Linked DNA regions of Homo sapiens: region 1 is linked to region 2. The links come from fine-mapping of genetic effects on gene expression. A gene starts in region 2. The other region holds a variant in brackets. All regions are shown on one strand. Distances are between the middles of the regions.

What was found. PIP is the estimated chance that this variant, and not a neighbour inherited with it, causes the effect.
Region 1: its variant is the best candidate, but not a certain one, in a credible set for the expression of RAD51 in blood mononuclear cells (TOPMed, PIP 0.77).

The regions. Positions count from the first base shown.
Region 1 is chr15:40,532,312-40,548,416 of GRCh38, reverse strand. It overlaps a transcript of CCDC32 not described here and the pseudogene MRPL42P5. Among named protein-coding and RNA genes, the nearest start is that of CCDC32, 25 kb to the left of the region's middle. RefSeq lists an enhancer at 4,381-4,480 and a silencer at 4,631-4,730. The variant C/T (reference allele first, on the strand shown) is at 8,238.
Region 2 is chr15:40,685,175-40,701,279 of GRCh38, reverse strand. It overlaps RAD51 (RAD51 recombinase), which reads right to left and starts at 6,106. Exons shown (of 10, transcript NM_002875.5): 1 at 5,855-6,106; 2 at 2,435-2,523; 3 at 79-216. The coding sequence starts at 2,521. RAD51-AS1 (RAD51 antisense RNA 1) reads left to right here and starts at 6,175. Exons shown (of 2, transcript NR_040058.1): 1 at 6,175-6,268; 2 at 6,485-7,546. RefSeq lists enhancers at 4,665-5,261, 5,262-5,859, 5,897-5,956, 6,427-6,576, 6,457-7,054 and 1 more.

The sequences.
Region 1 (16,105 bases), 150 kb after region 2:
TAAGTATTTTATTTTGCAGCCCCCTCTAGTCTGCGATGGTTGCAGAATTTAATACTTATGCTGGCTACAGTAGGGAGAGGGGCAAAATTGGACACAGGAGACCAGCTGTGAGGTGGTTGCAGTTGTCTAAGAAAGAGATGATAGTACTTGAGGACTTTTTCCACTTAGGATGTAGAATACTGCAAGAAAATGTCCCTTCCGTCCTAACAATGTGAAAAAGCAGGTACAAAATCATAACTTTTCTTGAGCCCATCAGAAAGCCAAGGCCACAAGGCAACCAAATAAAGGAGAGATAGTGTTAGGGGAGCTGAGTTCATAGAAATGAATAGGAGTGAGAGGAAATAGAAGGAGAGATAGTGACCCATCAACTGTTTCAACTTTGGCAAAGATGTGGCTGTCTTACAAGTGGGTAAGAAAAAGACAATAAAAATGTTAACAAATTTGTAAAGTCCACATGTGGCCTAGCATATCAGTTTAGAATAGCTGAATAGGATTCTAGACACGAGAGTGCGTGCAAAGGCAACCTTTTTTGTACAGGCCTCCCCTGGGGTTCATGGAGAAAAGTGGGAACAGGTCAGGAAAGGGAGGGACTGTTCTTCCTTGGTGATGCATGCATGCAGAGGTTGATCAAGGCGGCTGCTGGTGGAAGGCAAAAAGCCTCAACTTCCACAATCCTCTCCTTTAAGCAAAAGCCTTAAGCCATGGCGGGAGGGGTAACAAACTTTTGCTTCAGTGGGAGGAATAAAAGCAAAACTTATCTGCTTCTGGTGAGGTGTCAAAACCTTCTTGCCCTTCTTGAACAGGCAAAGACCCATTGCTCCTGGGACTAGAAGCAGAAACCCCCTACCCAGGGGCAGAAGCAGGAAACTGTCCTGGGCTGAAGATTCAAGCGAAGGTCCACTCTGTTGTGGGGAGGGCAAGAACTTTGGCTAATCCCAGATGAACCACATATAAGGCAGAGTTTGGCTTCCATAGGGAAGAGGGACAGAAACACTGAGAAAGTCCCACTGCTGAAGCTCGGGTGCCTAGGACCTATTTAAGACTGAAGCCGGGCCAGGGTAACAGAATCAACCCTGCCCTGCCCTGCCTGAGCCTGGCACCAGATCACAAGCAACAGAAGTCTTCTGCCAGCTGAAAAGCTGAGTGTGGGACAGCAGCACTGAGGAAGCCCTGACACCCCAGTCCCCACTCTAAGCAGCCCACCACTAGAGGAATTTGAAACCTGGGGTGCACTGAAGGTAATGAGAGCACAACCAAACCCAAACCCTGTCCAATTCCTAACAAGACTGACTCAACCCCCCAGACCAACAGGCTGACAGAAGAGGCAGCCCCACTCCCAGATACAGATACTATTTACCTCAGTCTCTGCTGTTTTATACACCATGGGCATTCAGTTAAAAAACTGCAAAACATAGGTCAGGCGCTATGGCTCACACTTGTAATCCTAGCACTTTGGGAGGCCGAGACAGGTGTATCACCTGAGGTCAGGAGTTTCAGACCAGCCTGGTCAACATGGCGAAACCCCATCTCTACTAAAAATACAAAAATTAGCCAGGTGTTGGTGGTGTGTGCCTGTAGTCCCAGCTACTCCACAGGCTGAGGCAGGAGAATCACTTGAACCTGGGAGGGTGAGGTTGCAGTGAGCTGAGATGGCCCCACTACACTCCAGCCTGGGCAACAGAGCAAGACTGTCTCAAAAAAAAAAAAATTGCAAAACACACAAAAAGACAAGAAGAAAACAACCCAATCCATTATCAGAAGATGAATCAACAGAACCAGACTCACAAATGACACAGATGTTGGAACTATCACAGAGGGACTTAAAATAATTATAATTACTATGGGGTCTGGTGGGGAAGGGTGGGCAACTTGCATGAACAGATAGGGAATTTTGGCAGAGACATGGAAACTAAGAGAAAGTGAAATGGGGCTGGACGTGGTGGCTCATGCCTGTAATACCAGCACTTTGGGAGGCCAAGGCAGGAGGAGCACATGAGCACAGGAGTTTGAGACCAGCCTGGGCAACATGAGACCTCATCTCACCAAAAAATACAGAAATTAGCCAGGCATGGTGGCTCGTGCCTGTGGTCCCAGCTACTTGGGAGGCTGAGGCAAGAGAATCACTTGAACCCAGAAGGCGGAGGTTGCAGTGAGCCAAGATCATGCCACTGCCCTCCAGCCTGGGTGACAGGGTGAGACCCTATCTCAGAAAAAAAAAAAAAAGGAAAGAAAAAGAAAAAATAAAGTCAAATGGAAATGCTAGAAATAAACATGATATTAGAGATGAATTGCTTCCACAGGCTTTTCAGTAGGTAGGCATAGGTGAAGAACCAGTGAACTTGAACTGGTCAATAAAAATTCTCTGAACTAAAACACAAAGAGAAACTGGGATGGGGGAAAAGCAAAACAAAGCAAAACCTATAAGAGCTGTGGGACAATAACAGTCTAATATACATGTGATTCCAGCCTCAGAAGGTGAAGAGAGAGAGAATGAGGCAGAATAAATCTTTGAAGAGATGATAGTTACATGAATGAGGTGTGGCGGCAAGGCTAGAGAGAAGTGGATATGGGAGCATTTGCAAGGAGAACCACTGAGGCTTGGTCACTGAGTGGAGGGAAGTGTGGCACCTGAGTGTCTGTCTTGGGAGCTGCAGGCTCTCAGCAGGTAGTAGTGGGTGGTTAGCAGGTGGTGGTGCCAGGATGGAGAGCCAAGCCTAGCTCTCCAGTGCCTGTGCTCTCTGCTGGTACCCCACACCACCTCCTACAGGCCAAAGTGGAACAGTAGTGGGCCTTTGCTCCTCGATTCCCTAGCCTCCAGCCCCAGCCTTTCCTAAGCCCTCAATGTACTATTCCTATTAGTCAATGTGTGGCAGAGAGATGTTCATCTCCCCCCATTCTCTCCACCTCCTCTGTCCCAAGTGTTGTGTCACACATTGCTCTAAAGGTTTTCTTTTCCCAAACAAACTGACTCTCTCCTCCCTTCATTTTGACGTAATCCACTTTTAAAAATTACTTCTTTAGCAGATAAGTAGAAAGGGAGGAGGCAAAGGTGAGAGGGATTGTGTGTGTGTGTGTGTGTATGTGTGCAGAAGAAAGCAGATAGGTTACTGAGAGTTTATGAGCATTTTAAAGAACAGATATTTCCAGGACCAGTTTTGGCTCTTTAATCTTACATCCTTTGGGGATGAGACCATCAAATATTGGCTTAGCAGAATGCCAAGGTGCAGTGTGGTCTTCAGCATGGTGCCTGATCAAGGCAGACAGGATGCGGAGTGTACATTGGGTAAGAGTATGGTAGAGGAGACCCACAGTTGTTAGAACAATCATCCCAAAGGTAAACTCTTGGATTGATAAACTGACATGTTGTTGGTTTCTTTTTCCTCTGTTCAGCTCAACATCTTTATCAATGATTTGGTTGAGTGAATAGAAGGTAACCTTATCAAAAGTGAGAGGAGTAGGTAATTGAATAAAAGAATAACAATTCTAAAATTTTTCTATAGACTAGAGTGATGGGACAAAGTATGAAACATGATACAGATAAATGTGAAATCTTTCATTTGGGATCAGAAATTAACTACACAACTAGAGGACAGAGAAGAACAGAGTATTTATTAGTTTGTTCTAGTGACAGAAGCCAAGAAGCCAGACTCTGGAAAGTTTTCCAAGGCTGTTGAAAAAAAAAAATCCAAGCCGGACTCAATTCTAGTCTAAGACATATAGAGCTGGCTTCAGTTAGCTGGACCTCAGGACTCCAGCAGTATCTTTAGCCTCTCTTCCTCCCACTGTTGACTCTCTCTGTGTGTTGGTATAGCACAGGGAGCTCTGGGCTGACATGATTCCAGTTTAGGAAGTCCAGAGGAAAGATAACACTTTCCAACCCCATATAATAGATGCCAGGGGGCTCCGCACAGTGGTTTAGGCTTAACAATCCCAGCACTTTGGGAGGCCAAGGTGGGAGGATCACTTGAGCCCAGGAGTTTGAGACCAGCCTGGGCAACAGAAAGAGACCCCGTCTCTACAAAAAAAAAATTTAAAAATTAGCCTGGCGTGGTACTGCATGCCTGTAGTCCAGCTACTCGGGATGCTGAGGTGGGAGGATTGCTTGAGCCCAGGAGGTTGAGGCTGCAGTGAGCTATGATTGCCCTACCGCACCCTATCCTGGGCGACAGAGCAAGATCCTGTCTCAAATAAATAAATACATTCCAGGGGAGGGACTCAGATTGGCTTGGCCTGGGTCACATGCTCATCATTGGAGCACTGACTATGACAAGGGCAAGATCTATGGTTAGGGGTACAGGATACTGTGGTAAACAGTCCCACCAGAACCATATGAGAATGGGAAGTGAAAGAGGATTGCTGTTGGCTGAAGAAAGGGGAAAGTGGTATGGAAAACCCCAAACAGGTGTTCAGTGTCTTAACAGTTCAATGGAGTCAGCAGTGTTATGTGCTGCTAAAAAAAAGTTATAATTCTAGGAATCAATAGTGGAAATGTACCTGTGTACCTGGGACATAGTAGTGTAAAAATATATTCTGCAGTGGTCATGCCTCTCTGAAAGCATCGTCTGGGCACCACATTGCAAGAGGATGTTCTGCAGTGAGCAGGTCTATGCAAACCTACCCCTAAAGGCCAAGAGAGCTGAGGGGCCAAAGAAACAGGCTGACAAGCCCGGGTGCAGTGGCTCATACCTGTAATCCCAGCACTTTGGGAGGCTGAGGTGGGTGGATCACGAGGTTAGGAGTTTGAGACCAGCCTGGCCAATATGGGGAAACTCCATTTCTACTAAAAATACAAAAATTAGCTGGGCACGGTGGCGTGCGCCTGTACTCCCAGCTACTTAGGAGGCTGAGGCAGAAGAATCTCTTGAACCTGGGAGGCAGAGGTTGCAGTGAGCCAAGATCATGCCACTGCATTCCAGCCTGGGCGACAGAGTGGGACTCTGTCTCAAAAAAACAACAACAACAACAACAAAAACAAAACAGAGAGAGAGGCTGACGAATCTAGTTTCTCAGAGATAAATGCTTAATAGAAACTTATGCACAGAAGCCATACCTTGGTTGGTCACGAGATGGTGGTTTCCATGCCCGCCCTCCAGAAAGTATCCTTTGTATAACAAGTTTTTAGGGGAAAACATGTGCAGCTGGTCACACCTCAGACTTTATTGCAAGTTTCATGACCACTGGGGAGGTTAGATAAGCATCTTTATGAGGGGTTATTTATGCTACAGGCATTCTTTCTTTTCTTTTTTCTCTTTCTTTTCCATTTTGTTTTTTTTTTTAGACAGAGTCTGGCTCTGTCACCCAGGCTAGAGTGTAGTGGCATTATCACAGCTTATTGCAGCCTCAACCTCCCGGGCTCAAGCTGTCCTCCCTCCTCAGCCTCCTGAGTTTGCTGTGACTATACCCCTGGCTAATTTTTTTTTTTTTTTAAGAAAAGTCTCAGTATGTTGCCCAGGCTGGTCTCATACTCCTGGGCTCAAACAATCCTCCTACCTTGGCCTTCCAAAGTGTTGGGATTATAGGCATGAGCCACCCCACCTGGCCAGGCATCTTTTTTTTTTTTTTCTTTTGAGACAAAGTCTCGCTCTGTCCCCCAGGCTGGAGTGCAGTGGCAACCTCTGCTCCCGGGTTCACACCATTCTCCTGCCTCAACCTCCTGAGTAGCTGGGACTACAGGTGCCTGCCACCATGCCCGGCTAATTTTTTGTATTTTTTAGTAGAGACGGGGTTTCACCGTATTAGCCAGGATGGTCTCAATCTCCTGACCTCGTGATCCTCCCGCCTCAGCCTCCCAAAGTGCTGGGATTACAGGCATGAGCCACTGCGCCCGGCCCAGGCATTGTTTCTTGACCTTGCCACAGGAATGCCTTGGTATGCAGGAGTCAAACATCAGTCATTATGGCAGTTTTGCTTCAAGGTGGTGCCATTCTTGCAACAGGGTCTTTTCCTACAGAGGAACATCGACAAACTGCAATGCTCCCTAGAGGAGGGGTCCAGGGTGAGCAGGCTCAGATCGAGTTATTTGAAGACAGGACAAGACAATAAGATTGTTTTCCATAGAAAAGAGATTTAAGAGAGACCCGGTTGGCTTTAAAATATTTGAAGGAGTATTGGGTAGAAAGCTGAGACACACTGAAGTACAAAGGACAAACTAGGACCAATGGCAGGGAGTTTCAGGAAGACCAATTACCATTCAGTGTTAAGAACTTTCTAATAGCTGTTCAACAATAGGGTGGCCTTGTAGAAGATAGTAATTCCCTGTCACTGGAGGTGTGTCAGCAGATGTCAGAAAGGTTGTAAAGGGGATTCCTGCATTGTGTAGAAAGTTGGATCAGGTCACCCCTAAGGTCCTTTCCAATTATGAAAATCTGTGGTTGGCTACTGGAGACCTATGGGGGCTTGCTGCTGTTAAGTCAGCCCTGGTCTCCCCAGCATTTGGGAGGGAGAGCTGGTGAGTTCTTCTTTCTCCTCCCTAGATAATAATGACAAACACCTGATCACCTACCAGTCAGTGGTCAGAGGCAGAGCCCTCCAACAGTTCTTATCTTAGCTCAACCCTGAGGGACAGACTCTTGGGTTGGAAGATCACAAAAAGGTCGCTCTTGTGCTGTTTTATGTTCTCTGAACGTGTACCTTGAGACAAGGACCTGTATGTAGGTGGCTGATTTTAGGGGGTGAGCAGGAGTGAGGGAGGGAGGAGAATGAGACAGCTCCCTGTGTTGAGTAGGTCCACTGTGGGTAGTTAGGGCTGTCGCCCTGGGATCACTCTGAGGAGACATAAAGATTATGGCTTAGGCTAAGCGCGGTGGCCTGTAATCCCAACACTGTGGGAGGCTGAGGCGGGTGGATCACCTGAGGTCAGGAGTTCGAGACCAGCCTGGCCAACATGGCAAAACCATGTCTCTACTAAAAATACAAAAATTAGCCGGGTTGGTGGTGTGTGCCCATAGTCCCAGCTACTTGGGAGGATGAGACAGGAGAATTGCTTGAACCCGGGAGGCGGAGGTTGCAGTGAGCCGAGATGGAGCCACTGCACTCCAGCCTGGGTGACAGAGCGAGACTCCGTCTCAAAAAAAAAAAAAAAAATATTACAGCTCAGAATTTTGCCACTGACTGACGGGGCACATCTGGGCTGCAGTTCCACCAGTGCCCATCCTTCATTGGTTGAGGTTTGCTCTTTGGAGGTATTAAGCCCCTGCCACTTTCAGGCAGCCCTGCAGGGGCTAAGAAAAGCCTCACGCAGAGGAGAGAGGAGGGAAACTGAGCATGTACCAGAAGCATCCGCTGCAGCTGCGGCTGGTCACAGAAATGGGCTGGAGGGATGTGAGGCAGCGCGTGAGCATCTGGCACAGTCTCTTTCCCGCCCAGGCCAGGATCCGCCTTCCAGGGCTGTGCGGGACCTTTGGTTTTGACATTTTGGTCTCTGTGGCCCAGTGTGGGAAGTGGTTCTCCCCGGGGGTGAGTTCAGCCCAGCCTAGTCTGAATGTCCACACACTGCTCTCTTGGGTTCAAGTCTTCCTTCTTGGCCCAGCTTCTCACTGGGCTCTCTGGACTGAGGGCACCAGGGCAATGGACGCTCCAGGCTGGCACCTGTTCAACACTCATATGTGAGCTTGGAACATGGTGACATTAGGGGCACTGACTCTACTGTCCTTTCACACTGTGGTCAAGGTTAGGATAGATGAGAGACTGGCCCGGCCCCAGAGTTTCCTGTATTGACAGCCTAATCATTTTCTAAGAAGAAAATGCTGGGCTGGGTGCAGTGGCTCACACCTGTAATCCCAGCACTTTGGGAGGCCAAGGCAGGCAGATCACCTGAGGCCAGGAGTTGGAGACCAGCCTGGCCAGCATGGTGAAACCCTGTTTCTACTAAAAATACAAAAAATTACCCAGGCATGGTGGCAGGCGCCTGTAATCCCAGCTACTCGGGAGGCTGAAGAAGGAGAATAGCTTGAACCCAGGAGGCGGAGGTTGCAGTGAGCCGATATCACGCCATTGCTCTCCAGCCTGCACAACAGAGCGAGACGCCACCTCAAAAAAAAAAAAAAAGAAAAAGAAAAAGAAAAAAATGCTAAGAAGAACGACAAAGAATTCAAAGACCCTGAGAAGCCTCCCTCAAAGCCTTGGAGACACTTCAAAGATGGGAAATCATGGCACTGATGTTAGAGGCAGTGTTCCCTGCCAGGCACTAAAGGCCAATCCAGTTGGCCCAGCCCTCCTGTTACCACTCCTCTGGATTG[C/T]CCTAGTCAGAGCTCTGAGCCTGTCTCTCTCTTCCCTGATCCCTTCTCCCACCCTCTGGGCCCCACACTCTTGTCTGGTACTCACTGTTCAGTCTGTCTTTTCCCTCCTCTTGCCCATTCATTACCTCCAGGGGCATCATCATCTCTGAGGTTCACACTTATTCCCTAGATTTTGCCGCAATTTGAAAATCAACCCTTCACACTGTTCCAATGCCCATTTCACCACCTGGGCGAAGTGAGGCTGAGTAGGTATTTATGATGAGTTTGGGGTGACATGGAATCAAGGGCAAGGAGCGGGGTGTGTGTGTGTGTGTGTGTGTGTGTGTGTGTGTGTGTGTGGCAACAGTTTGATCACTCTTATTAGGGGAGGGCCCCTCTTAAGGTGGCAAATGTTGTCCAGCCAGAGGAACAGCCTGGCCAACAAATCAACTCAGACAGACCCTGCCTGACATCTCAGAGAGCAGGAGGCCAAGAGAGACCTATTGGGCAAGGAAATTTCCTGGGATGGGAGCAGGGGCAGCGGAGAGCTGACTGCCTTGGTCTCTGCTTTTCCTCTCTTCCTCTGCCTGGCCTCTTGCTGTGGTGCCACGGGCCCCCGTGTCCCCTGTGCCTCCGTTTGTCTCTTGTCTCTGTCTCAGGCTCCACTTTGCTTTATTTTTCCTGCAGTCCTGCACGGCTGAGGCTGTGTCGACACCTCACTTCCTCGCACCTTCGCACTCTCGGTGCTCCTATGTATGCCTGTCTCTCTTTGACTCTGTTAGTGTGTGCCTCTGACTGTATCTGTCTATCTTCCTCGTCTCTGTCGGTCTGTCTTATTCCCATAGGCCCTGTAACTCCAGAACCCCTGGCAGCAGCAGCTTTTCTGAGGATGGAGCGTGGGACAGCCACCAGTGTGCTGAGCAGAGGTGGCGAAGGACATTTCCAGCCCAGCAGTCGTCATGGTAACAGCCAGGGCGGGCCAGGCAGGGATGTGCAGAACCATGTGGGATTGACCTTTCTGTGGTGTCAGGTTTGAGCGGGAGCTGGGGAGAAACAGCAACAACTACTTCCCTCTGGCCCAGCCCTCAGGGCTTCTGGGCTGGGCTGAATGAAGAAAGGGAGAAGCTGAGAAGTGGGACAGCTGGCGAGAGAGCCAAGAGAGAGACAGGGCTTTAGTCAGAGCCAGCTAGAGAACCCATGGGAAGAGGGACAGGCTGGTCACCAGCAGGCTCCTGCGGTGAGCCCACCTGTGGCAAGCACTAGACCTCAGGCCCCCAGTTGGCAGCGCTCATGGGTGGGTACTAAAGGTCAGTTCCCTATACTCAGAGCTCCCCCAGACTCCTTCAGATCAAATGTCACCTTTTCCATATTGCAAAAGCCTTTATTGCTCTAAGGAAAACATGCTAAATTAAAAAGAACCAAATTATTCTTTTAAAAATAGAAATATTTTAAATGGAAAAGTTCAAAGAAAATAAAAGGCTTTCCAATCCTCCCTCTGCTTCTCCCAGCTCTAAAATTCCTCCACAGTTGCTTCCCATGCCTGCCAGGTTGGAGGAAAGGGACAGGCCTGGGCCCAGCGGCCTCTTCTCTGACAAGGGCACAGAAAGGGAAGCCGGATTGGTCGTTGCCTGAATTTGAGGGGGGCTTGGACTCACAGGCTTCCCGCTAATTCGAACCAGTGAAGGAGACTCATTTCCCTCTATGCCCCCTCTTTCTCCTATTGGGGCGGACATACAGGCAGCAGAAAGAGGTGCCCACAGGTGCCCTGTGACCCCTTGAGGGAGAGGCGAGGGGTGCAGGGCAGCCTCAGGTGAGCTCCATGGAGAACATAGCTTACCAGTGGATCCCATTTCCAGACTTTCAAATCATGGCCATGCAAGAGATCTCGAGCTTTCTGGGACACACTGCTATGGAAAACAAGACCATAGCCTCAGAATAAAAAATGTGGTCTTCTTATTTACTGAAAATCTACCTTCAGGAAAGACATGAAGGGGGCACTCACCAGCCAATAGGTGGGTAACTTAACACAGCAGCACCACAGGCTTTCTTTTATACAGGAGTACAGTCCCCAAATCCCCTTGGAGAACTGCCTCTGGGCCACTTGTACAGGGGAAGGGGACACTTGGCAGGAGAGGGGACCGCAGACCTTGTAGTCATAAGTTAGCATGCTGCTAAAAGACTATTTGAAATGAGTGCTGATTACATATATTTAAAAGTGGTCAGCATTACTGAAGCTCCAGCTTTTTTTTCTGAGGCGGAGTCTTACTCTATCACCCAGGCTGGAATGCAGTGGCACCATCTCGGCTCACTGCAACCTCCACCTCCCAGGTTCAAGCAATTCTCCTGCCTCAGCCTCCCCAGTAGCTGAGATTACAGGTGCCCACTGCCATGCCTGGCTAATTTTTCTATTTTTAGTAGAGACGGGGTTTCACCATGTTGGCCAGGTTGGTCTTGAACTCCTGACCTCAAGTGATCCGCCCACCTCAGCCTCCCAAAGTGCTGGGATTACAGGCATGAGCCAACGCGTCTGGCCAAGAGCCAGCATTTTTGAGACTCGAACCTTTCTCTGACTGACATGTATTGTGGAGCTCAAAATAAACATTCTGTATTTTGGGAGTTGGTCATCACTCTCTAGTTATGCTCCTGTAGAGCTATTACTGAACCTCTGGCCTCTTCCCTGGGTTCTGGAAACCTTCATGTACCCGTGGCCCCCAGAGCAAGGGGTAGGAGACAGGAAGGCTGCTAGTGCCCCGATGGTCCCACACGAGGCTGGGACCTTGGGACACAGGCACTGCATCATTCACTGTTCCCTGCATGGGCTTCAGGAGTGGATGAGAGCCCAGGGCCAAGCCCCTTCCTCTTTCGTTCTGCCCAAGCCCCTTCCCTCCAGCTGCCTTCCCTCCTTGAGTCCCTTGATTCCTCTGTGATCCCCCCTCCAGCTCAGCACCTGGGGCTGGCACCACTCCCCAGGGATACTGATAAAGTCACAGAGCATCTGCCCAGCGCCTGAGGTGGTGTAAGTTGGGGAAGGTGGGTCATCCTGTTAGTTGCTCCTGCCAGGCCTGGAGCCCCTGGTGGTCCTTTAGAATTCTAGATTCTCTTGGTTCCTTTCTCCAGAATCCTTCCCTTCTCGCTCCACTCATGCTCTGGGCCAGGCCCACCACGTCTCCTGGCAGCTGACTATCTCATGCCACCTGCCTTTGTTCTCTATTCCCTTTGCCAAAACCATATTTTCTGGTGAATCCCTCTTCTACTTCAAGGTTCAGTTCAAGTGCCACCATATAAGTGAAGCTGTCCTCAGTCGACCCTAGGTGACTCTGTGGCCCCATGGAACTTTTTCTCATCACCATCGTAGCAGTCATGACTCTGTTTTGACCTCCACTTCTCCACTGGAGAGTGTGTTCCGTGGAATGAACTGGCTTGTAGTGTGACCTGTGAACCTCCAGAGCTTGGCTCTGTGTTGCTCATTGAGTACTTGTTCTTGCAGTGGGCCCTTGCCAAGAGAGGCCCCTGTTCTGGGATGTGAGCCAGAGAAGGTCCGAGACTCATAATTTCATGTGTCATACTCGTCCTCCACCCAGCTCCCCCTGGCCAGATCACAGCCCCCTCCTGCTGCAGGGCCTGTAGTGCCAGGCTGGTTGCAAGACAGGGGTCCTCACCTCTGAGAAAATCATGGCTTGGCCCATTGGCACCCCACCTGGGATGCAGAATGGAGCAGCAACAGCTGGCTGGTGTCTGAACGCTATTTCCCCAGCCCTGGGCAGCCATCTCCTGTAGCTGTTCCCTCATCCCATGGCTTTACCAACCCCTCCTTGCTGCACTGGAGAGCCTGAGAGCAAGTAGGTTCAGAGTGGGAAGACAGGGCTAAAGGCATCTTCCCGGTCTTCTCTCCTTCCCCTTCCTCCCAGCAGTTGCAGCTGTGCTGCGTGATGATGTGGAACAGAGCACAGTCTTAATTACTGCTCAGCCCTGCTCATTAGTGCTTCTGGAAGCCCAAGAAGCCAGAGTTAGGAAGCCTCAATCACAGTGGAGACCCAGGCTGCAGGCCTCCTGGGTGATCGCTAGTCCTGTGTCTCCTGGTGACTTGGGACCCCTTTGGGGGACTCCAGCAAAAGACACTCCCTCCAACCCTGAGACTGGGGAAGGGCTGAAGCTGGAGGGAGTCACTGCTGGATTAAGGGAGTCGCTGCTGGATTAACCTTCCTCATGGGCAGCTCTGATCAAATACCTATGTTTCTCTTGCTGACAGCATAGAGTCTGGAGTCCTTGGCTTAGCAGTCAAGCTCCTCCACAATTTGGTCCCACAGGACTTTCCCAACCTGATTTCCTCCTTCAATCCTGGCAGACAAGGAGGGAAGGCAAAGGCTAGGCCCCCTCATGGGCTCTCACTAGTGTGTGCAGAGCATTTCAGGGACAGCATATGGTGGAACGTGTGAAACTCCACTGCAATCAGAGAAAGATGAACGAATGATTAAATAAACCACATGTGCTCAAATCCCGCACACTGATGACTTCCCTGCTTTTGGAGAGACTTAGCAAGGAGCCTGGTGTGTTGTTCAGCATGCACTATTTTTTTTCTTTTTTTTTTTTGGTTGTGAAAAGGAATAAAGAACCATGAAGTGCCTGAAGACTGAACGAAAGGAAGCTGAGTGGAGGAGGAGAGAAGGGGCGGGCCCTGAAAACTATAAATCTATAGGCCCAATTTCAATATGTGGAAAAACTCCTTCAAAATATAAATTTGTAAACACCCTAGATCAAATGAGAGAATGCTCATGAAAGCACTTTTTGAACTGCAAAGGGTTAGAAATATAAAGCATTATTCTGTAATATTTCTGTTCAGTGCAGACTTTAAAACAGATGCTATGGAGAGGCTGGAGATCTATGATAATGGCTCATCACCTACAAGGTGCTCATACAGTTTGGGCTGTTTCATTTAATTAGTCATTGCCTCTCATGTAGACTACTGCAGAAGTCTCCTAAGTGGCCTCCCCACCTCTGCATTCTCCCCCATTCCATTCATCTTATATGCCACCGTCACGTTAATCTTCCTGATGCACAGCTCTGATCAAATACCTGTAATGATTCTCCTGCTGACTGCACAGAGCCTGGAGTCGCTGGCTTAGCAGTCAAGACCCTCCACAGTCTGGTCCCCCAGGACTTTCCCAAACTGATTTCCTTCCATCACGGCAGGCATGGGCTCGGGAAGATCAAGTCACTAAACCCAAGACCACACAGATACCAAGTGGCAGATCATACAGCCAAGCCTTCAGACCCTGACATCTGACTCCAAGACCATTCTGAGCCCATCACTTCCTCACTTTGATGGTGCAATGGACTGTGTGTTTGTGTCCCTCTAAAATATACATGTTGAAACACTAATCCTGATGTGATGGTATATGGAGATGGAACTTTGGGGAGGTAATTAGGTCATGAGAGTGGACCCTTTATCAATGGGATTAGTGCCCTTACAAAAAGGGGCCAGAGACCTAGCTAGTTCTCTTCTGCCATGTGAGGATACAATGAGAAGTAGACAGTTGGTGATATGGTTTGGCTGTGTCCCAATCCAAGTCTCATCTTGAATTGTAGTTCCCACAATCCCCACGTGTGGTGGGAAGGACCCAGCGGGAGGTAACTGAATCAAGGGGGCAGTTTCCCTCATGCTATTCTTGTGATAGTAAGTTCTCACGAGATCTGATGGTTTTAGAAGGGGCTTCCCCCTTCAGTCGGCTCTCATTCTCCTTCCTGCTGCCCTGTGAAGAAGAACATATTTGCTTCCCCTTCTGCCATGAATGTAAGTTTCTTGAGGCGTCCCCAGCCATGCCAAACTGTGAGCCAATTAAACCTCTTTCCTGTACAAATTACCCAGTCTCCAGTATGTTCTTATAGCAGTGTGAGAATGGATTAATACAGCTGGAGACCCAGAAGAGGGCTTTCTCCCAGAACTGGACCCTGCTGGCCCCCAATTCTCAGACTCCAACCTCGGAACTGTGAGAAATAAACCTGACTAAGGTTAGACCTGACTAAGACAAATGGATACTGCTGCAGTGATCTTTCCACATAGAGCTTTTTCTCTTCTTTGCAAAAATTTCCTTAGGACAAATTCCCAGGAGTGGGATTACCAGGTCAAAAGTCATTAATATTTTAAATGGCTGTGTGAATTGACATAATGCTTCACAAAAGAACTGGGCTGATTTATATTTTAGCCAATGATGTAGATATATACAAGTTTCACCAGCCCCTCTTGGGATCTTAGCCCTTCTAATGCCTGCTTTCTAACGGCATAGCGAGAACATATTGTAAAAGTAATTTGATTTCTTCATGTGTTATTCAGGGATTGCTCTCATCTCCTCCAAGTCTTTGCTCAAATGTTCTCGGTGTGGTCTACCCCAATTACTCTATTTCAAATGAAAACACTCCCTCCTCCTAAACCCATTACTCTCCTTACTCTGCTATTTTTACACATTATTTGGCATCTTATAATACATACTTTTCTTATTTATTATGTGTATCCTTTTTTAAAAAACGTGCTGAAAACTCTTTATAACAATGCAGGACAATGGCCAGGCATGGTGGCTCATGCCTGTAATCCCAGCACTTTGGGAGCTGAGGTGGGTGGATTACAAGGTCAGCAGTTCGAGACCAGCTTGGCCAATATGGTGAAACTCCGTCTCTACTAAAATACAAAAATTAGCCGGGCGTGGTGGTGCGCACTTGTAGTCCCAGCTACTCCTTCTGAGGCAGGAGAATCGCTTGAACCCAGGAGGCAGAGGTTGCAGTGAGCTGAGATCACGCCACTGCACTCCAGCCTGGGCAACAGAGGGAAACTCCATCTCAAAATAAATAAATAAAATAATAATAATGCAGGACAATTATGTATAGCAAACACTTTCAAAATTTAAACTCCTTCAACATTTAATTCTTCAGCATTATGTATACTTTTAATTGCACATCTGCCCCCGACCCTGACACCAACTAGAATGTAAGTTCCATTTTGTCTATTTAATTTGCTGATGTGTTCCCAAGACTAGAACAGAGCCTGGGGCATAGCAGGATCATGAGGGTCAAACAAGATAATGCCTGTATGTAGCCTGTGGTGGGCAGCACCTGGTACAGAGCTCATGATGAACCATTATCCTCTTCCTCTTACATGTCCACCAACAGGAGAATAGAAATTATGATATATAATATTGTAAATTGGCCAGGTGCAATGGCTCATGCCTGTAATCCCAACACTTTGAGAAGCTGAGGCAGGAGGATTGCTTGAGCACAGGAGTTTGAGACCAGCCTGGGCAACATGGTGAAACCCCCTACCTCTACAAAAAATAAAAAAAATTAGCCAGGTCTGGTGGCACGCGCCAGCCTGAAGTGGGAGGATCAACTGAACCCGGGAAGTCGAGGCTGCAGTGATCTGTGATCATGCCACTGCATTCCAGCCTGGGTGACAGAGTGAGATTCTCTCTCAAAAAAAAAAAAAAAAAAAAAAAAAGAAAGAAAACAAATTCAAGTAAAACAATTAAATTATAAATCATTAAAATTATAATTACAAAGAATATGCAGCAGTATGGAACAGTTTATAACTAATGTTAAGTGAAAAAAAGCAGACTACAAATTTGTCCATGATTACAACTGGGTAAAAATAATTTAAGATCTATGCAAAAATAAGGAGACAAGATGATGGGCTCATGGTGAACAGCTGTGAAGCAGGGATGAAAATTAATGTGCCCAGAAGCAGATTCTCTTTGAAGCATCTTTTTTCATACTACCTGATAAGTGTCTTGCTACATGGCAGTAGCAGCAGTAAGACGGGTGATATCAAAGAGAACTATCTGGAAACATTTATCTTCAATCCAAAATGGAGCCTTATGTTTGTCATAAATCTACGTACTCTT
Region 2 (16,105 bases):
AAGGAAGAAGTCTTTCACTACATTCCCTTTTGTACTATTCCCACTAATGCCTCCCTAGGTTAAGTAAGCAGTACTTACCAGAATTTTATCAGCTTTGGCTTCACTAATTCCCTTAATATTTATTAGCTCCTTCTTTGGCGCATAGGCAACAGCCTCCACAGTATGGAATCCAGCTTCTTCCAATTTCTTCACATCGTTGGCATTTATGCCACACTGCTGCAAATGAAGAAAACCATGGATAAATTTAAGCTTTAGTTCTCTAATCTAACACAGATGTTATGTGTCCTACATACTTCACAGAGGTGCTTGAAGACTTGTAATACAACTGTCCCTTGAAATCCTTGGGGGGGCGGGGGGAGATGGGAAGTTGGTTCCAGGACCCCCAGCAGATAACAAAATCCAACAATGCTCAAGTCCCTTATATAAAATGGCGTATTACCTGCATATAACCTATGTACATCCTCCTGTATACTTTTTTTTGATATGTAGTTGATTGAATTTTTGATACGTAGTTTGTTGAATTTGCTGATACAGAATCCGGAGATACAGAGAGCCTACTGTTATTATATGCAAAAGCTGAAAAATGAGCCCTATATATGAGGTACTTAATAACAAATTAACAACCTTTTCATTATCAAAATCAATAATTTTAAACTAGCACTAAGCCATGTACATTAAAAAGAACTCCTATTAGCAATTGGAATTAAAAAGTAACTCCCAACCTTTTTTTGTGACCCTAAATGATCTCTGAGACCTTGGGCCCTACAAGACCACTTTAAGACAGTGTTGCTCAACACTTTCCACATCAAGCACACATAAAAAACTGTATTTTTACACTATGGTAGGGTAAATAGATAAGGCTGCTCAGAATATAAAGAGCACTATCTTGGCCTGTCAATACTTTTTGTTGAACAATGACCAGAAAGCTCTGCTCTAACAACTGACATTAACAGTGAGGAAAACTACTTTTTGTCAGGGACTTTTATACCTCTTCTCAAAACAAACCACCCAAAGACACCTCTTTCTTCCTATATTCAAGTCAGCTTTGGTTTCATTAGCCACCAAAACCATGACTTCTGGGAAAACATGAGTTAGTAGGTGAATGTGGGTGCATTCAGGGGTTGGGAGAATTTAGAAGAGGGGAGAGATTAGTTTGCCAACATAAGCCATGTCTGCTATTAATATTTAAGCAATATGCATGTTTGAGTATAAGGATGCTCATGGCACCAGAAGTTATGACTCTGAACTTTCAAATGTTTATCACAAATCCATTTAAGTAACTTCTAGAGTCTTTTTTTTTTATTAGCCTTTTGCACTCCTAACTTCTAGAGTCTTGAAGATTAGTCAGAGATGGGAAATATGAAAAAAAGAGACAGAAGAATCAAGTCTTTCTCTGCTTTCCTCCTACTTAGCCCAAATCAGCTGCACTCACAGGGCAGTCTCTATACAATGGGCAGAAATAGTGTAAGGCCTCAGCTCTGGTGCTTAATGTTCTTGTGCAGAATCCTGAATTGGAGCTTGTCTCTTATACCATAACACCACCACACCCTTCTCTCTGCCAATGACAGCTGACAGCACAAATCTAGGTTAATGGAGAGAAGGTGCTTCCCTGTCTTCCTTGCATAACTGGTCCAGGCCGCTATAATTCCCAGAACAGCACTTTCATACTTAGTGCAAATAGCACAGGATGCTTTGGCCAGGCATGGTGGCTCATGCCTGTAATCCTAGCAGTTTGGGACGCCAAGGCAGGTGGACTGCTTGAGGCCAGGAGTTCAAGATCAACATGGTCAACACAGTTAAGACCCATTTCTTAAAAAACAAACAAAAAAACAGCACAGGCTGGGCGCAGTGGCCCATGCCTGTAATCCCAGCACTTTGGGAGGCCAAAGAGGGTGGATCACCTGAGGTCAGGAGTTCGAGACTAGCCTGACCAACATGGAGAAACCCTGTCTCTACTAAAAATATAAAATTAGCTGGGTGTGGTGGCTCATGCCTGTAATTCCAGCTACTTGGGAGGCTGAGGCAGGAGAATCGCTTGAACCTGGGACGCAGAGGTTGCGGTGAGCCGAGATCACGCCATTGCACTCCAGCCTGGGCAACAAGAGCGAAACTCCATCAAAAACAAACAAACAAACAAACAAAAACAGCACAGAGATTCCACCATGGGATCCTAGGCCTTAGTTTCTGACAGTCCAACTCTCAGAAATAAAAATGATAAAGTAGGAAGAGAATTGTTGACAAAGGAAGAGGCCCTGCCAGACATATTTAGCAATGATCTGCAGCCTTTCCACAGGATTATTGACAACACTTCTGAAAAGTCTAATTTGGGTCTTGACCTTGGTAGTAAACCTATATTTTATGTAAAGGTTGTAATACCTTCCACTAGGTAGAAGAATCTAGTATATAATTCCAAAATTAGCAACTAACCACATACCTCTAACCGTGAAATGGGTTGTGGGCCAAAGCTTTCTTCTTCCACTGAAGTATCTGCATTTGCTTCAAGCTGCATCTGCATTGCCATTACTGAAAAATACAAATGCTTATCAGTATAAACACTAGAGAAATAAGGTGCATCTCTCTCCCCATCTTCTATCTAGCTAGTCGTATCAAAAAGACTTTAGGAAAAGCCAAGGCCATTCTCTTATTGTGCCTCTCTGTTCTCCTGCTTTATATTCCTTCAGTGTAGGGGCCAAGTTTTACTTATTTTTATATACCCCATTATACATTATAAATGTGTTTGCAGACAAATACTGCATGATCTCACTCATATGTAGAATCTAAAAAAGTTGATCTTGGCGGGGCGCGGTGGCTCATGCCTGTGATCCCAGCACTTTGGGAGGCCGAGGCGGGCAGATCACCAGGTCAGGAGATCAAGACCATCCCGGCCAACATGCGAAACCCCGTCCCTACTAAAAATACAAATATTAGCAGGGTGTGGTGGCACACGCCTGTAGTCCCAGCTACTCGGGAGGCTGAGGCAGGTAAATGGCTTCAACCCGGAAGACAGAGATCGCAGTGAGCCGAGATCGTGCCACTGTACTCCAGCCTCATGACAGAGTGAGACTGTGTCTCAAAAAAAAAAACAAAAAAAAAAAAGTTCATCTCATACAAGGAACAAATAGAACAGTGGTAACCAGAGACTGAGGAGAATGCAGCTGTTGCAGGGGGCGGCAGGAAGGAGAGAGGTTGGTCAACAGGCACAAAGTTTCAGTTAGATAGGAGGAATAAGTTCTAGGGTTCTATTTCACAGTAGGGTGACTACAGTAAACACTAATGTAATGTATACTTCAAAATAGCCAGAAGCGAGTATTTTGAATGTTCTCATCACAAAGAGAAATGACAAGTGTTTAAGTGAACTGATGGATATGCTGATTACCCTGATTTGATCATTCATTATACAATGTATATATGTATTGAAATATCATCTTGGGCCAGGTGGAGTGGCTCACGCCTGTAATCCCAGCACTTTGGGAGGCCAAGGCGGGTGGATCACCAGGTCAGGAGATCGAGACCATCCTGGCTAACATGGTGAAACCCTGTCTCTACTAAAAAATACAAAAAATTAGCTGGGCGTGGTGGCAGGCTGAGACAGGAGAATGGCGTGAACCCAGGAGGCGGAGCTTGCAGTGAGCCAAGATCGCGCCACTGCACTCCAGCCTGGGCGACAGAGTGAGACTCCGTCTCAAAAAAAAAAAAAAAAAAAAAGAAATATCATCTTGTATCTCATAAATATGTACAATCGTCTGTCAAAAACAAAGTAACACTTATTATTTTCACAACCTTGGGACAGAAAAAGATTTCTTGAAACTGGATGCATAACGCACTAGCCAAAAAGGAAAAGACTGAAAACTGAACTACATTTAAATTCAGCACTTCTACTGGGCACTGTGGCTCACGTCTGCAATCCCAGCACTTTGGGAGGCCAAGGCGGGCAGATCACCTAAGTTCAGGAGTTCAAGACCAGCCTGACCAACATGGAGAAATCCTGTCTCTATTAAAGAAAAATACAAAATTAGCTGGGCGTGGTGGCACATGCCTGTAATCCCAGCTACTCGGGAGGCTGAGGCAGGAGAATCGCTTGAACCCGGGAGGCGGAGGTTGCGGTGAGCCAAGATTGTGCCATTGCACTCCAGCCTGGGCAACAAGAGCCAAACTCTGTCTCAAAAGGAAAAATAAATAAATAAATAAATAATAAAAAAATAAATTCAGCACTTCTATTCATCAAAGGACACCACTAAGAGAGTGACAAGTCAAACCACAGTAGAGAAAACATTTAGCACAAACATAACTGAGGGCTGATAACCAGTATATAAAGAACTTCACATCAGTAAGAAAAAGATAATAGAAAAATAGGCAAGAGATTTGAACAAGCACATCACAGAAGATATCAAAATGGGCAAAAACATATGAACAGATGTCCAACATCATTATTAATCAGGAAAATTAAAATCACATTAAGACATTACTGTGTAACCAGCAGAATAGTTAAAATCAAAAAGGCTGAAAAATATCGTGTTGGCAAGCATGTGAAACAACGAAACACTCAACACTCCTGATGTATTTTTATATAAAATTCAAAAACAAGCAACATTAGTTCATCTCATTAGAAACCAGTATAGCAGTTACCACTGTAAAAAGGGGAAAATATTAAATACTACACAGGAAGGCTTCTGAGGACCATTCTATTAAGTGGTGATTACATAGGTGTATATTCATTTTGTCTTGCTCTATCGCCCAGGTTGGAGTGCAGTGGCCTGATCACAGCTCACTGCAGCTTATACCTCCCAGGCTAGATCCTCCCTTCTCAGCCTCCTGAATAGCTGGGCCTACAGGTGCACGCCACCATGCCTAGCTAATTTTTCCTATTTGTAGAGATGCGGGTCTCACTATCTTGACCAGGCTGTTCTCGAACTCTTGGGCTCAATCGTCCTCCCGCCTCCACTTCCCAAAGTGCTGGGACTACAGACGTGAGACACGACGCCCGGCCAGTATATTTTGTAATAATTCACGGAGTTGTATACAGTTGTGAATGTGAATTTTTCTACATGTATATTACATTGCGCTTTAGAAGTTAAAAACAAACAAACAAACAAAAAAACAGGGGCCAGGCGCTGTGGCTCACGGCTGTAATCCCAGCACTTTGGGAGGCAGAGGCGGGTGGATAACCTGAGGTCAGAAGTTCGAGACCAGCCTGACCAACATGGTGAAACCCCGTCTCTACTAAAAATACAAAAATCAGCCTGGCGGCGTGGTGGTGGGGGCCTGTAATCCCAGCTCCTCGGGAGGCTGAGGTAGGAGAATCGCTTGAATCCGGGAGGCGGAGGTTGCAGTGAGCCGAGATCGCGCCACTACACTCCAGCCTGGGCGGAAGAGCGAGACTCCATCTCAAAAAAAAAGTTTTAAGAAAACCAAACCTCACTTCAGATCATTCTCTAGGCATCATGTGAATGGTTTTCCGCATTAGATGATGAAAACACTGTTTTGGCAATCGGAGATTGGTACTTTCTAAGCACGGTGTAATGGAAAGACAGATCAGGAATCCGGAAGCCCTGGCTGTGATATTAAACAGCTGTGGCTACACCGCTCTGATCTCGGACTTCTCGCTCGAACCCATAAAATAGGTGTTGCCTATAAAGGCTCTAATGTTTCTCCCCTAGTTCTAAAGACTGAGGTCCACTTGTGTTTTCGCCCCAGCAGCTGAGGGTCGGTCGGGCGCGGACACGCCCTGCCACGTCCGGGTTTCACACTGCGCGCGGAGGCCCCAACTGCCGCTGAGCACTGGACCGGCCAGGACGCAGGTGGGCGAGGACGAGCCGCGGCTCTGGAGGGCCCAGCCTGCGCCTCACACACTCACCTCGGTCCGCAGCGCTCCTCTCTCCAGCAGGCCCCGCGCTCCGACTTCACCCCGCGGGCGTGGCACGCGCCCGACCCGCACGGCCCCCAACGCCCCTGGCTTACGCTCCACTTCTCTACTCGCTTGCCCCAGCCTTCTGCGCACAACCCAGATGAGTTGCAGTTCCCAGCTGCACGCCTCGGGAAGCGCCGCACTCTCCTTAGGGCTCGGTCTCTGGCCGCTGCGCGCGGTCCGCCAGCGGCTTTCAGAATTCCCGCCAAACCCTCTCGCCCAGGGTCACGCCCGCGTCGACGTAACGTATCCCCGCCTCCCGGATCCGCCTTCTCCCCGCTTCCGCCCTGCGCGCTAACCCAAGACGGGAGCTCGAGAGCTTGATCCTGCGCGAGTTTACAGACTGCCCTCTTCCCTTTTTGCGTAAGGACTAATTCAAACTTTATGCCGGGGGCGGTGGCTCACGCGTGTAGTCCCAGCTGCTCGGGAGGCCGAGGCGAGAGTATCGTCTGAGCCTAGGAGTTCGAGGCTAACCACGGCAACGCCCCTACTCCTACCCCAGTCCCTCGCGGGTGGGGCGAGGGATTTCAGGGGGCGGTGGGGGAAGACTTAACCGAGTTGCCGTCTTCTGTTTACCAGATCGAAGACCACGACTCCCAAGAGGTAATGCGTCGGCCCGGGACTACATCTCCCGGCATGCATCGCCGGCGGGTCCGCGAGTTCTCACCATCGCAGCTGGACTATTAGCGGGGGCCCTAGCGCTCTTGTGGTTTGTTTCGGCAGTATCTGAATGTCAGCTTTTGGCACTTCTGGTCGCTCTGAGCCTCCTACTCGCATTCCTGGAGCAAGGTGCTTTCCAGGCCTCATGGAGGTGGAGGAGCTGAGGAAGCTCGAGAAGATGGATAGAAGTGGGAAATGGAGCTAGCGTACGGGAGAGGGAAATGGCTGGAATATTCGTCAATCTGTGGTGCTTTACTGGAGATTTGCAGGAGTTCAGAGGAAGGGGGCATTGAATTTCATAACCTAAACCGTATCGTGGTTTACCAGAAAGTTTTGACCCGTGATTCCGGTTTTAAAGGCTGAGTAGGGCCGGGCGCGGTGGTTCACGCCAGTAATCCCAGCAGTTTAGGAGGCCAAGGCAGGCGGATCACCTGAGGTCAGGGGTTGGAGATAAACCTGGCCAACGTGGTGAAACCTCGTCTTTAGTAAAAAATACAAAAATTAGCCAGGTTTTGTGGCACATGCCTGTAATCCTAGCTACTCGAAAGGCTGAGGCATGAGAATCGCTTGAACTCAGGAGGAGGTTGCAGCCAACCGAGATCTCGCCGCTGTACTCCAGCCTGGGCGACAGAGCGAGACTGTGTCAAAACAACACCACAAGCTAGCTGAGTAGGGATTCTTGGGCGAAGTGGAAGACATTATAAGCAAATAGGGTAGTATGGGCATGGAAACGAACTACATGATTAAAGATTAGTATTATCTGGCGAGGGAGGAAAAGTGCCAGAGCAAGTGCCGAAACTGGAAGGTTACATTTAGTTCAGGATATGAAGATCATATAAGGCCTGCACGGTGGCTCACACCTGTAATCCCAGCACTTTGGGAAGCCAAGGTGGGGGAGGATCGCTTGAGCTCAGGAGTTGGAGACCAGCCTGGGCAACATAGTGGGACCCCATATCTCAAAAAAAAAAAAAAAAAAAATAAGCTGGGCGTGGTGGCTTGTGCCTGTGGTCTCAGCTATCCCGGAGGCTGAGGTGGGAGGACTGCTTGAGCTCAGGACGTCAAGGCTGCAGTGAGCTATGATGGGCCACTGCACTCCAGCCTGGGCTACAGAGTGAGACCTTGTCTCAAAAGACAAGCGACAACAACAAAACATGTAAGGAGAGGCCAGGCGCGGTGGCTCAAGCCTGTAATCCCAGAACTTTGGGAGGCCAAGGTGGGCGGATCACGAGGTCAGGAGTTCAAGACCAGCCTGGCCAAGATGGCAAAACCCCATCTCTACTAAAACTACAAAAATTAGCCGGGCGTGGTGGTGCATGCCTGTAATCCCAGCTCTTTGGGAGGCTGAGGCAGAGAAGTGCTTGAACCCGGGAGGTGGAGGTTGCAGTGAGCGAGATCACGCCACTGCACTCCAGCCTGGGCAACAGAGCAAGACTCCGTCTCAAAAAAAAAAAAAAAGGTAAGGAGCTTTGGTCTCTAGGTACTGAAGAAATCATTGAAGTTTTTAAGAAGACAAGTCATTTGGTTAGATCTATTTTCCCTCCACTTACCAATTTATTTTTATTTTTATTTATTTATTTATTTATTTATTTTAGATGGAGTCTTGCTCTGTTGCCCAGGCTGGAGTGCAGGGACGTGGTATCAGCTCACTGCAACCCCACCTCCCAGATTCAAGCGAGTCTTCCTGCCTCAGCCTCCCAAGTAACTGGGATTACAGGCGCCTGCCACCACGCCCAGCTAATTTTTTGTATTTTTAGTAGAGACAGGGTTTCACCATGTTGGCCAGGCTGGTCTCGAACTCCTGACCTCAGGTGATCCACCTACCGTGGCCTCCCAAAGTGCTGGGATTACAGGTGTGAACCACCGCACCCGGCCTTATTTTTTTATTTTTGAGACAGCATCTCGCTCTGTTCAAGTTGGCCTTGAACTCCTGGCCTCAAGTGATCCTCCCACCTTGGCCTCCCAAAGTGTTGGAATTACAGGTGTGAACCATTGCAATGGCCTTATTACTACTTTATATTTGTGGAGTGCTTTAAAGTTGACAAAGTTTTTAGTTAATCCTCACACTATTACCTTGTGGCGTTGAAGAACAGATTTCAGGAGCGTGAAAGTGAAGACACCAAAAAGGAAGTTCTTGCAATATTTCAACAAAGAGATGAAGATTTGGATTAGATTCCAGTTCTACCTTTTTGGCACCAGGGAGCTGTTCTGTGAAAGACAATTTTCCACAGGGCTCGGGGGGTGGGCATGAGGCAGAGGATGGTTTCGGAATGAAACTGTTGCACCTCAAGATCATCAATTAGATTTCCATAAGGAGTGTGCAATCTAGATTCCTCACAGGTGCAGTTCAAAATAGGTTTTGAGTTCCTGTGAGAATCTAATGCTCTCCTTGATCTGACAGGAGGCAGAGCTCAGGCAGTAATGCTTGCTTGCTAGCTGCTCACCTGCTGTGCAGCCCAGTTCCTAATAGGCGACAGGTCTGTGTTGGGGCGTTGGGGTCCTCTGAATTAGAGGAATGACAGAGAGAACAGACTCAGGCAGCTTTCTGGATGTAGAAACAACCTAACTTAGTGATTATAGATACTACCTGTGATAATAGTGAACTTTCTTCCATATCAAAGTTACACACCTTTGCCTCCGGTTCTTCCCACACCCTTAGAGCATCTGCAAACCTACAGCCCTCCTCCTAGCTGACTGTAGTCACATGACTTTTACCTTTCTGGCCACCAGTTGTACCAGCAGTGTTCATCTGGCCCCAAATTGGCCAATCATTTTCCTGCTCCTGGAAAATTAGACTTGGCTTTATATTCAAGTCTGACCTCAGGAATTTATGGGGCAAAGTACACAGATAGATGTGTGTGAATGTCCAATCAGAGAAAGCACATCTGCAGAAAGATTAAGAAATTGATGTCGGGTGTGGTGGCTCAAGCCTGTAATCCCAGCACTTTCGGAGGCTGAGGCAGGCGCATCACCTGAGGTCAGGAGTTCGAGACCAGCCTGACCAACATGGTGAAACCCCATCTCTACTAAAAATACAAACATTAGCCTCCAGCTACGCAGGAGGCCAAGGCAGGAGAATCGCATGAAACTGGGAGGCAGAGGTTGCAGTGAGCTGAGATCGTGCCACTGCACTCCAGCCTGGATGACAGAGCAAGACTCTGTCTCAAAAAAAAAAAAAAAAAGAAAAAGAAAAAGAAATTGAGATACTAAGGAGAGAGTCAAAGATAAATAAACCATTTGAATTCTGACTCCTTTCCAGATCGCCTTTCCAGTTTCTCAGAAGCCTAGCAGTACTTACTCCTCCTGCTCTTGGGTTCTTTTTTACTTTTTTTTTTTTTTTAAAAAAAAAACCTTGAACTCTTAAGGATTAATGCTCTTGAGTTATGAGATATCCCTACATTCCAATAACTCTACCTTCTATTTTTATTGATTAAACTAGTTTGAGTAGTTTCTGTTCCTTTCTTCCAAAACAACCCACTGAGAACTTGGAAATAAGGCAAACTAGATTTCCCTCTAATAGTTAAATTGGCATTCTCTGAGAATATTTATAAATGTGTTAATTGAAAAATTTTGGAGTGTGGTGGCTCACACTTGTAATCCTAGTGCATTGAGAGGCTGAGGTGAGAGGACCATTTGAGGCCAGGAGTTAGAGACTAGTCTGGGCAATGTAGTGAGACCCCCCAACTCTACAAAAAAAAATGTTGTTTTGTTTTTTTTGTGTTTTTGTTTTGAGATAGAGTCTCGGTCTGTCGCCAGGCTGGAGTGCAGTGGTGAGATCTGGGCTCACTGCAACCTCGGCCTCCCAGGTTCAAGCGATACTCCTGCCTCAGCCTCCCGAGTAGCTGGGACTACAGGCACATGCCACCACGCCCGGCTCATTTTTTGTATTTTTAGTAGAGATGGAGTTTCACCATGTTGGCCAGGATGGTCTCGAACTCCAGACCTCATGATCCGCCTCGGCCTCCCAAAGTGCTGGGATTACAGACGTGAGCCACCGCGCCTGGCCAAAAAAAACCTTTTTTTAAAAATTAGCCAGGTGCGGTGATGCACACTTGTAGTCCTAGCTGTCTGGGAAGCTGAGGAGGGGAGATTGCTTGAGCCCAGGAGTTCAAGGTTACAGTGAGCTATGATTGCACCTTGCACCACTGCACTCCAGTCTGGGCGAAAGAGTGAAACTTTGTCTCAAAAAAAAAAAAAAAAAGTATAAATACATATATATAAATGTATATATATAGAGATACATACACACACACATACATATATATGTATTCTTTATATATAAGGTAATGTGTATCAAGTGATCTAATCTGCTCCTAATTCACCTCCTCTAGTATGCTTACAAAATGAGAGTCCTGGAATAGCAGACATGCATTGTAAATAAATGAACATCTTTCTACAAGTATATTTCCCCAAGGTTCAACTGAATATAGTTTGCTATAATTTCTTAAAATTCAATCAATTTCACATCCATTAAACTTACAAGTACCGTAATCCAGTTTTCCTAGGAAAACTAAGCCCAGCCGAACCTTGGGAAAAATACCTCTGTGTTAAACATATATACATGATCGATTTTAAATGTTTTCACCACAAAAAATGGTAAGTACGTGAGGTGATGGATTTGTTAACTCAGAAGCAGGCACACCAAATCACAATGGGTCTGATTCGATCCTCCCTGATGGCAATGGAGACCCATCTAACTAATCCCACTTCTAATTACCTTTCTTTTTCTCCTTACAGACCTAAAAAATCTCACCATTTCTATTAGCCTGAAAATAACATCCCTCTGTTCTTCTCTTCCTCCTTCAGCACTGAATCTCGCTTACACTAGGTTTTACTTAATGATTCTCCTCCTTATACTTTCTGTCTCACCAGTTTCCTCTCACACTTATTTACCTGCTACACAAAATTATTCTTATTGGGCTTATGTGCCCTTTCCTCCACTTATTCGACCTCTCACCTGGATTGATGCTCCTGCGGAAATCTACATTAACGATAGTTTGTGGATGCCTGGAGCTACAGATGACCGTTGCCCTGCTCAACCAGGAGAAGAAGGCACTACATTTAATGTTATCATGGGTTATAAATAACACCCTCTGTGCCTCAGAAATGCACCTGGTTATATCCATCTAGAAACTCAAGTCTGGGCTGCTTATCTTCCCGAGAGATCAGCTACAGAGGAACCGGGACATTTGGTCTCTGGCCTCTCCCTTTCTCCTTTAAAACAAATGAAAGGGGGAGTAATGGGACATACCCCATACTTTCAATAAGTAGCCTCCAGGCATTCCCTTCCACCAGAGGAGCAATTGTTTTTTAAATAGCCCTTTGGCGCCCAGTCTATTACTAAACCATATGAGTCATTTTTTAATATTACTGCATGTGAGTTAACATAGTCTTCCCAAATTAAAGTTTTAGATGGGCCCTCAAAATTTTTAGGGCATGGTTTTCCTGCAGGTTTATATGGAAAGTATGGGGTCCCTGACTTCTCGCAACAGTGGCCTACACTGCCTTTCAGTTTACCTAGGCCTCCAAAGCACTTTAGCCTGTGGGGCTTGCCAGAACTCGGGTTCCAGCTCCTGGAATGGACAGTTCCCCTCTGGCTAGGGTTGATCTAATGTTCCCTCTGGGTTACTGGCTGAGTTCTGCCCTGTGTGGCTTTCTGCTGTGCCAGGGCTGCACTGAGTTCAAATGCAGAGTCTCACAATCATTGTATTCTTCCTCCCCCAGGAGCACCCATTCTCTCTTTACACCAATTGGCCACTGCCAGGGGATGAAGAGGGATGATGTTGACAATTCAAGACTATTTCTTACCCTCTTCAGTGCCTGTTTCCTTAATATGATAATAAACCAGGTACTGCGATCACTCACCTGATTATTGGTTCTTATGAAGGTGCTTTTTTAATGTAGTTGTTCAGTTTGATATTTCTGTCGGAGGGATGACTGCTGGAGGATTCTATTAAGCCATCTTGCTCTGCCTTCTTGCAACACATAAAATTCAACAGTTTTGTGCAACTGTAAGTTCAAGTGTTTGTAATTTTATTTATTTCATTTTTTTCTTTGAGATGAAGTCTCCCTCTTGTTACCCAGGCTGGAGTGCAGTGGCGCGATCTTGGCTCACTGCAACCTCTACCTCCTGGGTTCAAGCAATCCTCCTGCCTTATCCTCCCAAGTAGCTGGGATTACAGATGCCTGCCACCATGTCTTGCTAACTTTTGTACATTTAGTAGACATGAGGTTTTGCCATGTTGTCCGGGCTGGTCTTGAACTCCTGACTTCAAGTGATCCACCTGTCTTAGCCTCCCAAAGTACTGGGATTACAGGTGAGAGTCACTGCTCCCTGCTGCAAATTTCTTATTAAATCTGTTTGACAGATTTTAGAATTTCTATAAGTAATGTTTAAAATTACAACCATTTGGGCTGGGTGTGGTGGCTCATGCCTGTAATCCCAGCACTTATTTTATTTCTTATCAGGAGAACGAGAATCATCATACTACTTTGCATCGGAGGTTAAGCTCATTCTTTTCCTTAAAATGGGAAGATAAAGGCATTACCCCCTCTCCGAGGCCTCATATGATACTCCCCATTCTGACCCAGAACACCCAGAACTTTGGAAATTGGCTATTGCCATGTCTGGACTGCAAGTATGGGAAGCAGAAACTATTCTGTCTGTTGTCCCCACTACCATCTCCCTCTCTCAGTATCAACGTAGATCCAGACATTCTGCTTTACCTACCTCCAACCTGTTTCCATACAGAGTTCTGTTAAGCCTCCTTGCATGCTGTTAGTGAGATATATCAAAATTTGGATGAACAATCAAACTGTCCAATGCATTAATTGTCATTTATACACTTGTATTAACTCCCATTTTGATTCCAGGAAAAGTGTAATGTTGGTTCGAGCTCAAGAAGGAATCTGGATTCCGGTAACTTTGCCCAGACCTTGGGAATCCTCCCCTTCAATACATTTAATTAATGAAGTGTTACAGTGAATTCTAAAAAGATCTAAGAGATTTATTTTCACTTTAATTGCTGTTATCATGGGCCTAATTACAGTCACTGCAGTGGCCACCACTGCCGGAATGGCATTACACCAGTCCATTCAAGCGGCTCATTTTGTTAATGGTTGGCAAGCCAATTCCATCCAAATGTGGAATTCTCAACAAGGCATCGATCGAAAATTGGCAAATCAAATTAGTGATTTAAGACAGTCTGTTATTTGGCTTGGAGATCAGGTAGTGAGTCTCGAGCATCACATGCAAATGCAGTACGATTGGAACACTTGAGATTTCTGCATCACCCCGTATTCCTATAACGAGACTGATCATTCATGGGAAATGGTCAAAAGACATCTTCTGGGTAGGGAAGATAATTTATCACTGGACATAACTAAATTAAAGAGACAAATTTTTGAAGCCTCTCAAGCTCACTTATCCATTGTGCCTGGAGCTGAGGCGTTAGATCAGGTGGCAGAAAATCTTTCTGGATTAAACCCCAGGACTTGGATTAAGTCTATTGGGGGCTCCACTGTAGTAAATTTTGGAATTATGTTTCTCTGTTTAATCGGCTTGTTTTTAGTTTGCCAGACTAGTCAAAGAATCCTGCGTCAAAATCAAGAGAACGAACAAGCCTTCATTGCCATGGCACATTTATTATAAAAAGAAAGGGAGAGATGTTGCGGGAAGTCAGGGACCCCGGAGGGACCAGCTGAAGCCATGGCAGAAGAACATAAATTGTGAAGATTTCATGGACATTTATTAGTTCCCCAATCAATACCCTTGTGATTTCCTATGCCTGTCTTTACTTTAATCTCTTAATCCCGTCATCTTCGTAAACTGAGGAGGATGTATGTCGCCTCAGGACCCTGTGATGATTGTGTTAACTGCACAAATTGTAGAGCATTTGTGTTTGAACAATATGAAATCTGGGCACCTTGAAAAAAGAACAGGATAACAGTGATGTTCACGGAACAAGAGAGATAACCTTAAACTCTGACTGCCGGTGAGCTGGACGGAACAGAGCCATATTTCTCTTCTTTCAAAAGCAAATGGGAGAAATATCACTGAATTCTTTTTCTCAGCAAGGAACATCCCTGAGAAAGAGAATGCATCCCTGAGGGTAGGCCTCTGAAATGGCTGCTTCAGGGCAGCTGTCTTTTATGGTCGCAGCTGTGGGGATGAAATAAGCCCCAGTTTCTCAGAGTGCTCCCAGGCTTATTAGGACGAGGAAATTCCTGCCTAATAAATTTTGGTCAGACCAGTTGTCTGCTCTCAAACCCTGTCTCCTGATAAGATGTTATCAATGACAATGCATGCCCGAAACTTCATTAGCAATTTTAATTTCACCCCAGTCCTGTGGTCCTGTGATCTCGCCCTGCCTCCATTTACCTTGTGATATCTTATTACCTTGTGAAGCATGGGATCTCTGTGACCCATACCCTATTTGTACACTCCCTCCCCTTTTGAAAATCACTAATAAAAAATTTGCTGGTTTTATGGCTCAGGGGGCATCACAGAACCTGCCAACATGTGATGTCTGCCCTGGACACCCAGCTTTAAAATTTCTCTCTTTTGTACTCTGTCCCTTTATTTCTCAAACCGGCCAACACTTAGGGAAAATAGAAAAGAACCTACATGAAATATTGGGGGTGAATTTCTCCTGATATCTGGCTGAATTTCCCCCGACAGGCCACAGGGACCGCAATTCCTGGGCAAGTCCTTGTGCCATGCTAGGCTCAGAGCCAGCGGACTTTGGGGTGCACACAACCTAGTGAGATACCAGCTGGGGTGGCCAAGGGAGTACTTGCATCACCCCTCCCAGAACCCCAGGCAGTGCAGCTCACAGCTCTAGGAGAGACTCCTTCCTCCTGATTGAGGAGAGGAGGGAAGAGTAAAGAGAACTTTGTCTTGCATCTTGGATACCAGCTCAACTACCATAGAATCGGGCACCAGGCAAAGTCCTGAGGCTTCATTCCAGGCCCTTGCTGCTGGATGACATTTCTAGACACATCCTGGGCTAGAAGGGAGCCTGCTGCCTTGAAGAGAAGGACCCAGTCCTGGCAGGATTCATCACTTGCTTACTAAAGAGCCATTGGGACCTGAATAGTCAGGCAGTACTCACGGCAGGCCTTGGGTAAGACTCAGAGCCACGCTGGCTTCAGATGTGACCCAGCACATTCCCAGCTGTGGTGGCTATGGGTAGGGACTCCTGCTTGAGGAAAGGAGAGGGAAGAATAAAGGGGACTTTGTCTTGCACCTTGGGTACCAGCTCAGTCACAGTGTAGTAGAGCAACAAGCAGGCTTCCAGGGTCCCCATTTCCAGGCCTTGCCTCCTGCAAAGCATTTCTGGAACTGCTCTGGGCCAGAAGGGAATCCATTGCCCTAAAGGGAGAGAACCAGGCATGGCAGCATTCACCATGACCTGACTGAAGAGCGCTTGGGCCTTGAGTGAACTTTGGTGGTAGCCAGGCTACTTGCCCTGGGACTGAGGCAGTAGTGGTCATGGGGAGAGACTCTTCTACTTGAGGAAAGAGGAGGGAAGAGTGGGAAGA